2 separate regions of the Homo sapiens genome follow, and region 2 is linked to region 1. The links come from fine-mapping of genetic effects on gene expression. A gene starts in region 1. The other region holds a variant in brackets. All regions are shown on one strand. Distances are between the middles of the regions.

The links. PIP is the estimated chance that this variant, and not a neighbour inherited with it, causes the effect. A credible set is the group of variants that fine-mapping cannot tell apart.
Region 2: its variant is the best candidate, but not a certain one, in a credible set for the expression of ABHD1 in thyroid (GTEx, PIP 0.55).

What each region holds. Positions count from the first base shown.
Region 1 is chr2:27,121,687-27,127,056 of GRCh38, reverse strand. It overlaps ABHD1 (abhydrolase domain containing 1), which reads right to left and starts at 3,242. Exons shown (of 9, transcript NM_032604.4): 1 at 2,995-3,242. The coding sequence starts at 3,108. RefSeq lists silencers at 3,158-3,297, 3,318-3,397.
Region 2 is chr2:27,149,066-27,154,435 of GRCh38, reverse strand. It overlaps TCF23 (transcription factor 23), which reads right to left. Exons shown (of 3, transcript NM_175769.3): 1 at 5,081-5,370; 2 at 4,071-4,313; 3 at 1-1,748. The coding sequence starts at 5,302. The coding sequence ends at 1,569. Among named protein-coding and RNA genes, the nearest start is that of TCF23, 2.7 kb to the right of the region's middle. RefSeq lists an enhancer at 1,463-1,522. The variant G/A (reference allele first, on the strand shown) is at 3,041.

The DNA.
Region 1 (5,370 bases):
CTGCAAGATCTCTGCCTCCCGGGTTCACACGATTCTCCTGCCTCAGCCTCCCGAGTAGCTGGGACTACATGTGCCCGCCACCACACCTGGCTAATTTTTTTTTTTTTTTTTGTATTTTTAGTAAAGATGGGGTTTCACTGTGTTAGCCAGGATGGTCTCGATCTCCTGACCTCGTGATCCGCCCACCTCGGCCTCCCAAAGTGCTGGGATTACAGGTGTAAGCCACTGCGTCTGGCCTAAGGGGCTTCTTTCTACCGGGGACCTTATCTTCTCTTACTTGTGGGGCCCCTGCTGTTAGATTGTGCTCTAAAGGAAGAACAGCCCTAATGTGAATCGATTTTTTTCTTCCTTCATGCCAGCTAGGGGGAAGGTGACAAGGATGAAATAACAGGGACAGATGAGGTCAGTGGGCACTAAGCCCTGACTTTCAGCTTCTCTGCTGTGTTCTGGACAGACATCAAGTGAATGAGAGAGCCTAGCCACGTGGAAGGCATGTGAAGGAGGAGTATGCCATAGGTTCAAGAATAGAAACTGCATATCCGCAGTGGGCCCTAAGGAACATGAGGACCAGATTTCTATCTCCAGTACAGTTCCTATAGTCTACAGGGGCAAATGGTAGAGATGCCAAGTCGATAGTGCAACTGTTGGGAGATGTGACTTTGGACCCTAGTCCTTAAGCCCTGGAATTACGACAGCTGTCAGTCGTGTGAAGGCACTGGGCTAAGCCCAAACTTATGAGATATTTTATAAGTGAAGAAGTTATGACTGACAGAGATTAAGTGGTTTGTCCAGTTACACAGCAAGCAAGAGGCAAAACAAAATTATTAACTATGACATTACCACCAGTACTTGTAGGTAAGATTTGTTGAGTTCTCATTAAGCTCCAGGCATTCTGCTAAGCACTTCACACAAATTTTGTCTTGTGATTTTCATAACAGTTCCATGAAATAGGTTCTGTGATCCCCCTATGTGAACGGATTTGAATGCTGAATAACTTGTCAAGGGCCAGAAGCTTGCCAGAGCTAGTTAGTGGCAGAGCAGGAGATTCAAACCCAGGTCTGTCTGACTCTAGAGCCTGCGCTGTCTAGTCACTGTCGGGTATTGCCTCCTAATTGCCAAGATTTTGAGTTGCTATCCTTTTTTTTTTTTTTTTTTTGAGACGGAGTTTTGCTCTGACACCCAGGCTGGAGTGCAGTGGTGCCATCTCAGCTCACCGCAACCTCCGCCTCCTGGGTTCAAGCGATTCTCCTGCCTCAGCCTCCTGAGTGGCTGGGATGACAGGCTTGCGTCACCACACCCAACTAATTTTTGTATTTTTAGTAGAGATAGGGGTTTCACCATGTTGGCCAGGCGGGTCTCGAACTCCTGACATCAAGTGATTCGCCCGCCTCAGCCTCCCAAAATGCTGGGATTACAGGCATGAGCCACTGTGCTCGGCTGAGTTACTATCAGTTTATTAATTCCTTGGTCAAACGGCCCAGTAGTGTGGAACAAGACTTATAAATTTGTTCACAGGTTTGATTTATGTGGGTTAATTTGATTTTAACTCAAGAAAATGTTTCTTGACTCCCTCCTGAGAATGAATTAGTATTACAATATGGCACTGGTTGCTATGCTTAAATCAGTATAGATCCATTACAGTGCTGGCCAATCCAAACACCGTATCTAGAGGGCCTCCAGAATGGCACTTTTCCTGCATTTTAACCAGTATTCGTTAGCTTATAAAGGGTTTAGTCTATAAAGCAGCAGGGGCCCAGATTTCTGTGCAGCTAGTTGCAAGTAAAGGAAAGTGTTTCCTTAGGGGCAGTTTTGTTCTGAAGTGACCTTCCAAATCTGATGTATAAAGTGAGGCCTACAGAGTATTGTGAGGCTTGGAGTTTTTAACTGTTTTATTAAGGAAGACTTTTTTTTTTTTTTTTGAGACGGAGTTTCACTCTTGTTGCTCAGGCTGGAGTGCAATGGCACGAGGCTCATTGCAACCTCCGCCTCCCAGGTTCAAGTGATTCTCCTGCCTCAGGCTCCCGAGTAGCTGGGATTATAGGCATGTGCCACCATGCCTGGCTAATTTTTGTATTTTTAGTAGAGATGGGGTTTCTTCATGTTGGTCAGGCTGCTCTCGAACTCCCGACCTCAGGCGATCCTCCCGCCTCTGCCTCCCAAAGTGTTGGGATTACAGGCGTGAGCCACCACACCCGGCCCTAAGGAAGACATTTAGTAAACAATATATGCTAATGTAGAAAGCTCTGAAAATATGGAAAAGTCTAGGTAACACTAAAGTCTCCTATAGACCTTTTTAAAGGACTCGAACCAGTAGGTGTCTTGTTAGACTCAGCTACCTAGAACAGAGTTTAATGAAGATGAAGAGATTTGGCTTTTCCTGGATATGTAAATTATGTATATATCTAAATTTCAGTGAGAAAAGTCTCCAAATTCATCAAAATCAACCTCTTCAAACTTTCTCATCACACTCACTATATGGAGAGCCTGGAACATAAAACGGCTGAATGAGCAAGGACAGTTGGGGTCATCCATCAGTTCTGAGCTAGGCCAGTTCTGACCTCAGCCAGCCCTTAAGGGAAGGGAGGTCCTACTAAGCTATTTGGGGGGTGGGTGGTATTGGGAGTTAGCCATGACCCACAGACCTCTGGTTCCTTCCTTCAGTGCAGCTGAAAGACTCAGCTAAACCACCTAAAAAGGAACGCAAAGTGTGCACATCTCTGATACCTCAGGATGCCTTCCACCCCACCTTTCCCCAAATGCTTGTCCACATTATAGGGAGCAGCACCCTCCGGTACCCAAAAGGCCCAGCTGGCATGGGGATCACATGGGATGCAGAGGCACTAGAGAGGCAGAGCCGACTCTCCATTCGGTGGTAGCAAATTTCACCTGTGGGGAAGCCCAACCATCCCAGTTCCCACCAAGGGCCCAAGCCCGTGTCTGGAAGCTGCCCCCTACACCCAAACCCGCTGGCCAGAGCGGTGGACCCGCACCCACCTGAAGCACACATGCCCAGTAGTAGCCCAAGTAGAGGGCAACGGCAAGAGCCAAGAGCAGAGAGAAGGTGTCTGCCCAGGTGCCATTCTGGGGGCTCAGGAAGGAGCTCAGCATCTTGTGTTGGGGGCTTCCGACCCTCAGGCTCCTGGCTGGCCCCAGTTGGCCGGCTGTAACTCGCGGTCCCACCCGCCGCCCGCCATAGGCGGCCTGTGCAGGTCCGGTCCCCGCTGCAGGCAGTTTGCGCTGCTGGCCCCGCCCACCGCCGGTGCCCCGGGATGGGCGGCGAGAGGCGGCGCTAGTTGGTCGCGGGGCTGGGTGGCTGGTCGCCTAGTGCCTCGCGCGGATCTAACCCGAGTGACCTGCGAATGGCCTCCCGCCCTCCCCTGCCTTCTTCCCCTCCGCGGTTCTTGGCTGTGCAGCCCGAGACAAGCGGCCTCCCCCAGCTGCCATCTTGGTGCGGGGCATCTCCAGCTCCCTTAAACTCTTCCCCGGCGACGCCCCGAGTCCAGCAGCCTGGCCAGAGTCCCTTAGGCGCTCGCAGTCAGTCACGCACAGGACACAGCTACTCCTGCAGTGACATTCTGCTCTGTCACACACTACAGCCATTCACAGTGACCCTCACCAGTCACTGTCCGACTGTGACACCCCACACTGTCACAAAGCTTTCAGCTGCTCAGTGGTGGCATTGCAACACATGCACCTTCCTGCAGTGTCACTCTGCATTGTCTCATACAGTCCCTGCCACACAGTCCTCGTACAGTAGATAATTTGCTCACCACCCGCCCTGTACCAGGCACTTGATACAGACCCCCCATGTTACTGTCCGTGTCTTCATTGAAATATAGGAGGTCGTCTACTAAGAGTAGTGGCTTTCAACCTTGACTGCAGATCGGAATCATCTAGGATTTTTAAAACTACCAGTGCCCAGGCCCTACCCCCGATACAGTTAGTCTGGAGAGGAGCCTAGGTATCAATACACCGTAAAGCTTCTAGGAGGTCCACAAGTCATCAGGGCTTAACATGGTCCACACAAGAGAAGTACCAGCTGCCATGGGAGCACTGCGGAGGTGCCCGGACTTCACGCGAGGGTGTTCTAGCAGAGGGGGCAGCAAAGGCAAAAGCCTGGAGGTGAAGGATGTCTTAAGGGAACAAAGAAAGTTGGTGTGGCTGGAGCATGTGGGTGGTCAAGGACCACATAATTGCTGCAGTTTATCCTAGGGTCAGAGGAAAGCCATCCAGGGGTTTTAAGAAGGGAAGGGTGACATGAGTTATGTTTTAGGAGAATCATTCAGTTGCTTGGAGAATAGATTGGAGGAGGAGGAAAGTAGAAGCAGAGAGGCCACTGGGAGGCTGCTAACAGAACGCCAGGCTCAAAAGATGCCCGGACTGGAGGATACCCAGGAGAGGAGTGAAGATCTTCAAGATCAGTGGCAGAATTGATAGGACCTGGTAGTAGATTGGAGGCAGGGGAAGAAGGAGGAACATGGATGACCTCCAGGTTTCTGACTGCACAGATATAAAGTGTCCATCCCTGGGACAGGGAAACAGAGGAGAGGAAGGTTTGAAGAGGAAGATGATGCATTTAGACACAGACATGTAGAAGTTGGGGTGCTGGTAGGTGTTTTAACTGTGTTTCCTTAGGTTCTGTATTTGTCTATTTGGCATCCATAAATCACAGGGCCAACCTAATGGCCAAGGTTGTTTACATCTCCCCTACAATCCAGAGCTCACACTCTGAGCACTTCCTTTCTCTAACTTTCACATTCCAAGCCAGTATCTCCCCTGCCCTAAATCAACCCAGGACCAGGTAACCAGGACCTGTCCCTGTGCCCCAGAGCACTCTGGAATTATTCAAACTAGCCAGTCCCAAACTGCTTCTCCTGCCTTACTGGGAGAAGTAAACCCCAATAAAGGCCTGTACCTTCCCTTCGCTTCTTTCTGCCTCCTGAGTGACACTGGCACTTCCCCCTGTGACCGTGCCTTTTGTTTCTAGGGGAACTGCAAATAACATTAAGCTTTTCTTTCAATAGCAGTGACCTCTTCATGTCCTCACTCAGCCACCTTTATAAATTAAAACTCAGGCACAAATTAGTAGGATATTCAATGCCTGAAGTGGCCTGGGGCTTAGAGATTGGAGGTGGAGAATTGGCAATCATCAGCATTTAGGTGGTGTATTAGTTGGCAGTTTGCTGTAAGAAAGCACTACAAACTGGGTGTCTTAAACCAGGGGTCCCCAACCCCCTGGGCTGCAAATTGGTACTGGTCCATGACCTGGTAGGAACCAGGTGGCATAGCAGAAGGTGAGCAGGATGAGCAAGCATTACTGCCTGAGATCAGCAGTGGAATTAGATTCTCATAGGAGCGCAAACCCTATGT
Region 2 (5,370 bases), 27 kb before region 1:
CCAGACCCCAACCATTCCCAGCCTGCCCAGAGCTCACTTACATTCATGATAACAACAATGGTGTGTGTCTAAGGATAACCTTGTTGGGACTCTAGTTGGTCATGCCCGTCCCCTCCCACTCTGAAGGGCTGAAATTTAACCGAAAGGTAATTTGTTCCATCTGGACTTCAGGTGCCAGGTTTGAGGCTACATCCGATCTGGAAAGTTATTTTCAGTGTGTGTAGATTCTATGATTAGTCCTCAAGTTATTTCTTTAGGGCCAGAGATGAGTTTCACCGAAGCTATATCACATTTCTGGCACCCCATGGTAGGACTTAGAGAAAGCCCCCAAGGACGATCTCCATGAGGCGGAGCCGGCCCTAGGGAGCTAATAGACTATAGAAATAACTCCAGAGCCAGGGAAGCCTCGAACACAAATTTTACAAGGAGCCAATTGAGTGGTTGAGCAGTTGAAGGCAGGCCTATCTTGTTTTTGCTTGAGGGCAGGTTTCTAACATAATGGAAAGAGAAGACTGTAATGATCACCCCCTATATACCTGATCTTCTCTTAAGGTCCTTCAAGGATGTAATTGATTCTGTCAATATCCTTCATATTTAAGGCCATAAGTTGCTGCTTGGTTCAATTAAGGTAGAATTGCTTCTGGTTAAGATCTCAAACTAGGCATCTGGGACTATCTAAAAGTTTCTCTGGAAACTGGAATGTAAGCAATGCAAGATGTATGGCTTAACCTGTAGATATAACTCATGTCAAGAAAACAGTGGGGTTGGGCATGGTGGCTCATGCCTGTAATCCCAGCACTTTAGGAGGCTGAGGTGGGAGGATCACTTGAGGCCAGGGGTTCGAGGCCAGCCTGGGCAACATATCAAGACCCCCATCTCTACATAAAAAGAAGAAGAAACGAAAAGAAAAGAAAAGAAAAGAAAAGAGTGGAAGAGTGCAGGAGCCGAGAGGGAGAGAAAATGTAGTGGTGAGGGGCAGCTTCTGGAAAGGCCCATACTACAGAGGGAGGAATCCTGAATTCCTCACTATCTCTCTAACATCAGGTAAGCATCTCATGATGCAGTTAGAAAGCACATTTCCTTCTTCAGTTTCCCCTCTGGCTGTGTGACCCAGCCCAGATCTGTTTACACTTGGAGCTACCAGGAGCCTATCCGGCCACCTGGCTTTCCCATCAGCACCTGGGGCTGGTGCCATCCCAGGCCCCTCCCTCTGCACCTGCCTTTTTGCTATCTGCAGAGGGTTTGTAGAAACCTTAGGGGAAGAAAGCTAGGGTGGTTCCCTACCTCAACTTTGAGCCCAATTATACCTCTTTCTCTCCCACTTCCCAGTAGCTGTCACAGAAGAGCCATGGGGAAGTCCCCTCCTGGGGACCAAGGAGGAGGCTCTCCAACCTGTGCCCCTCTAGGTACTGTCCATCACAGAAGTGCTACTGCTTCTCTTGGTCTGCATGCTGGAACTTGGGAGCTGAGTCTGAGTCAAGTCTGATGGCTGAGAATCTGGGGGCTGGTAGAAAATCCAGGCCCATAAGCATGAGTCACAGTCTAGGAGAAAAGGGCGAGTGTGATAATTATTTGTCACCAAGAGCTGGTGAGAGTGGTGTGGTGGAAAGGAGAGCATCTGCCTCTCCAGGGACTTGGGACCCCACCTCTGCATCTCTTGTTCTTTGGCTGGGGGTGCTGGCTGTGGTGGAGTCAAGATCGGAGTACCCCAGGCCTCCAGCATAGAGACGAGATCGCATCGGCCACTTCTGCAAGACACAGATTGGGAAGTGAGAAATGCTGCTATTGCAGCCCTTCGTGGTCCAGGATCCTTGACACCCAAAACCCAGCCTTCTCCAGCATCCCTCCCTGACACCTTCCCCAGCCATCACTGCTCTGATCAGGGTCATCATCATGTACAGCCCCACACATTCTCCTGATCACCCAGAGCCTGGATGAGAGACACAGGAGGAGCCATCTGAGGAGGGAGAGGGCCCCAAGAAGAGCAGCGCTCTGTTGGGAGGGAGGTGGACAGAAGATCAGCTGGCCTGGGCAGAGCTGGCAACAGCCAGAGGCTGAGCAATGGGCAGAGCAGCAGAGCCAGGAAAAACTCCAAGCTGGGTCCTCCAAGGTTTGCCCATCTTTCCAGCAGGAGCATGAGCAGTCCCAGAATACACCAGGTTGATTGCCCTGAGGTCGCCCTCCTGTTCACAACCTCTCCACCTGGGAGCTGAGGGAGCTGCTTCCTGGCCAACTGCCCCACCCTGTGGATGTGCTGGAGTGCTGGACCTAACCGGGCCCTCATTGGTTCATTCTTCAGCATAGCTGTTGATCACCTACTACAAGCAAGGGCCTTGCCTTGGTCACTATTTTACAGCGAAGGAAACTACTATATCATCCCAGGACCCTGCACCACCACTGACATTTCAGAGTTCCCCACTTAGTCTCAAATTTATACATTTTAGCTACATTTGCATTGAAGAAAAAAACCAAGTTTTAAGACATTTCAGAACTATGACATTTAGGGGAAAGAGGTGGTGAAAAGTATCATAAAAATAAAGTTGAGAGGTGAGAGGATCACTTGAGCTTAGAGTTTGAGACAAGCCTGTGGAACAAAGTGAGACCCCGTCTCTACAAAAAAAAAAAGAAAAAAAAAAGCCAGGTGTGGTGGCATAAGGCTGTAGTCCCAGCTACTGGGGAAGCTGAGGTGGGAGGATTCCTTGAGCCCAGGAGTTTGAGGGTACAGTAAGCTATGATTGCGCTACTGCACTCCAGCATGGGCGACAGTGAGACCCTGTCTCAACAATAAGTAAATAAATAAATAGTTGGGTGTGGTGGCTCACACCTGTAATCCCAGCACTTTGGGAGGCCGTAGTGGGTGGATCATCTGAGGTCGGGAGTTTGAGACCAACCTGGCCAAAGTGGTGAAACCCTATCTCTACTAAAAATAGAAAAATTAGCCGGGCATGGTGGTGCACGCCTATAATCCCACCTACTCGGGAGGCTGAGGGAGGAGAATCACTTGAACCGGGAGGTGGAGGTTGCAGTGAGCCAAGATTGC[G/A]CCACTGCACTCCAGCCTGGGCGACAGAGTGAAACTCTGTCTCAAAAAAATAATAGTACATATATAAATAAATAATAAAATAAAAAAGTTGATACCACTGCAATGTTATCCTCAGAGGGCAAAGATGACCCTTCCTTTTTAACACAGTGCACTCTTCAACCAGCTCCTTATGGCGCTGTCCCTGGAGACTGTTTAGTGGCTATGAGCTTAGGGTCTGAAGTCAGACACCCCTGAGTTCAAACCGCTTTCAGCCTCATAACCTCCCTAAGCTTCAGTTTCCTCATCTGTAAAGTAATCCTCATTTGGTTTTTGCATGGATTAAAAGACAAAAATACACTAACGTACTTAACCCAGCTCCTGGCCTATCTTTAGCACTCAACTGTTAGCTGTTATTGCAAAGATGATTAATGTTCATTAGACTTTCCATTTTGTACTCTGGAAGAGAAGTAAGGCTCATGTTAGCTTCTATTTTACGTGTAATAAAACTGAGGTTGAGAAAAGCTAGATTGCAGTCTGGCAAGTGGTGCGCGCCTTCCCTGTACTGCTGCCTGCTAACTCCCCCAGCTTGGTTGCTTCTAGAATGACGGTCCCTCAGACCGTTGTTCTCCTGGAGGACAGACCTCTCTTGCAACAGAAGCCTAGAAAGCACCAAGGCAGGCACAATGGGCTGAAGCTGCATGGGGATCTAGGACTCTCCTTGGTATAATTTCCTTTCCCAGGCCCCAGACTTGGAACCTGCTACATTTTTCCCTGTGACTCTAAGAACCCCAGAGTCTTTCCCTCCTCTTCAAGGAGGTGCATTCCCATGAAGCCATTTCCAGCCACACTCCCATGAGAAACCCAGGGTCAGCGCAGCCCCAAGGGTCAGCCTTGGCTCCTCTCCCTCTGAGACAGCAGGAGAAATTGGCTCCGACGTCAGTTCTGCACAGGGCAGGGGGCCCAAGTCCAATGTCCCCCCTCATTCCAATCCCTTTCTCCAAGGCCCTGGGCATTAAGATCCGCCTCTCAAGTCCCAGGGCTTGTGACTTACCTTGAGAGGGTGCAAGTAGCGGAGTCCACGCAGGAAGGGCGGCCAGGCAGGGCCAGGCAACTCGTGGCCGAGTGTGCGGGTGAGGTGGGCTATGTAGCTGGCGGCGAGCACCAGCACGTCCAACTTGGAGAGCTTGGTGTCGGGCGGCACGGCAGGCAGAGCAGCCTGCAAGGCCAAGAAGGCCTGGCGCAGCGTCCTGACCCGGCTCCGCTCCCGCGCGGCATTCTCAGGACTGGCCTCGCTCTGCACAGAGGGCCCCAGTGAGTGTGTGTGACCTGGACTCCCAACTGCCCTGACTTCTGAGAGCGTTTGAGCACAAGGTCTCCCACCAGAGTAGAAGGGTGTCTAGCAGTAGGCACCAGAGGGCCTCTGCCCACCTACGTCATCTGCAGCCCTGCCGCGTTTCACAGCTGAGGAAGTTGGGGGAAGGCCTGGCCAGGGGTCAGATGGCTGCAGGATGGCAGAGCTTGGCTCAGAACCCAGAGTCCTGTGTTCTCTCTACTACTCCACTCATGCCTCCTCAGAGCCTTTGTCCTGTCCCATGCCCAATCTGAATCCTGCTTATCAGGGTGTGCTGGGGCCAGGGGGAGTTCAGAGCTACACCCTGTTTGGGAGGGCGGACCCTTGACCTAGCCAGGTCCTGAGACGACGAGGCTGCTGTGGGAAAGAGGAAAGACACAGAACCAGGGGTCAAAGCACACAGGCTGAAGTCCCAGTCCTACCACTGGCTGCTGCTCAGTGACCTTGGGAAATTCACATCCCTCTTCCCGGCCTCAGTTTCCTCAAGAGAAGTGAGTTAGTGCAGCTCTCTGAGCTGCACTCTGGTTAAGACCAGCTCTGATCTATCCCAACTACCCAAAGCATGATGCCTTGGAGTCTAAGGGGCCAGTGTCCCCTCTCTTGGGCAGGAATGGTAATACTGAGTGAGGCTGTACCATCAGAGGTGACATCTCCCCACCTTCCAACCCCTTCCTCCCCTGGACCCCTCTGCAGGTGCAGGATTTCCTTACCCTGCCAAGAGCCAGGCCCCCAGCCCTGGTCCCTCGAGGGCCAGGGGTAGCTCTGCTCCATCTCTGGTTGCTCCAGCTTCTTTCTTCCCACGGGTCCTGCCTTGTCCTGCTGAGGCGGCTCCTCTTCCTGTCAGCGCCTGGCAGCAACCGTGCTTTGGCCTGAGTCTGGCTATGCCCCACCCCTGGCATGGCTGGTGGCCCTCTGGCCTTCCTCTGTGACATGCCACCCCACTGGGGCTGCAGCCCACAGAGCAGAAACACAGTGCCTGAGGAGGCCTTGGACTCAAGCT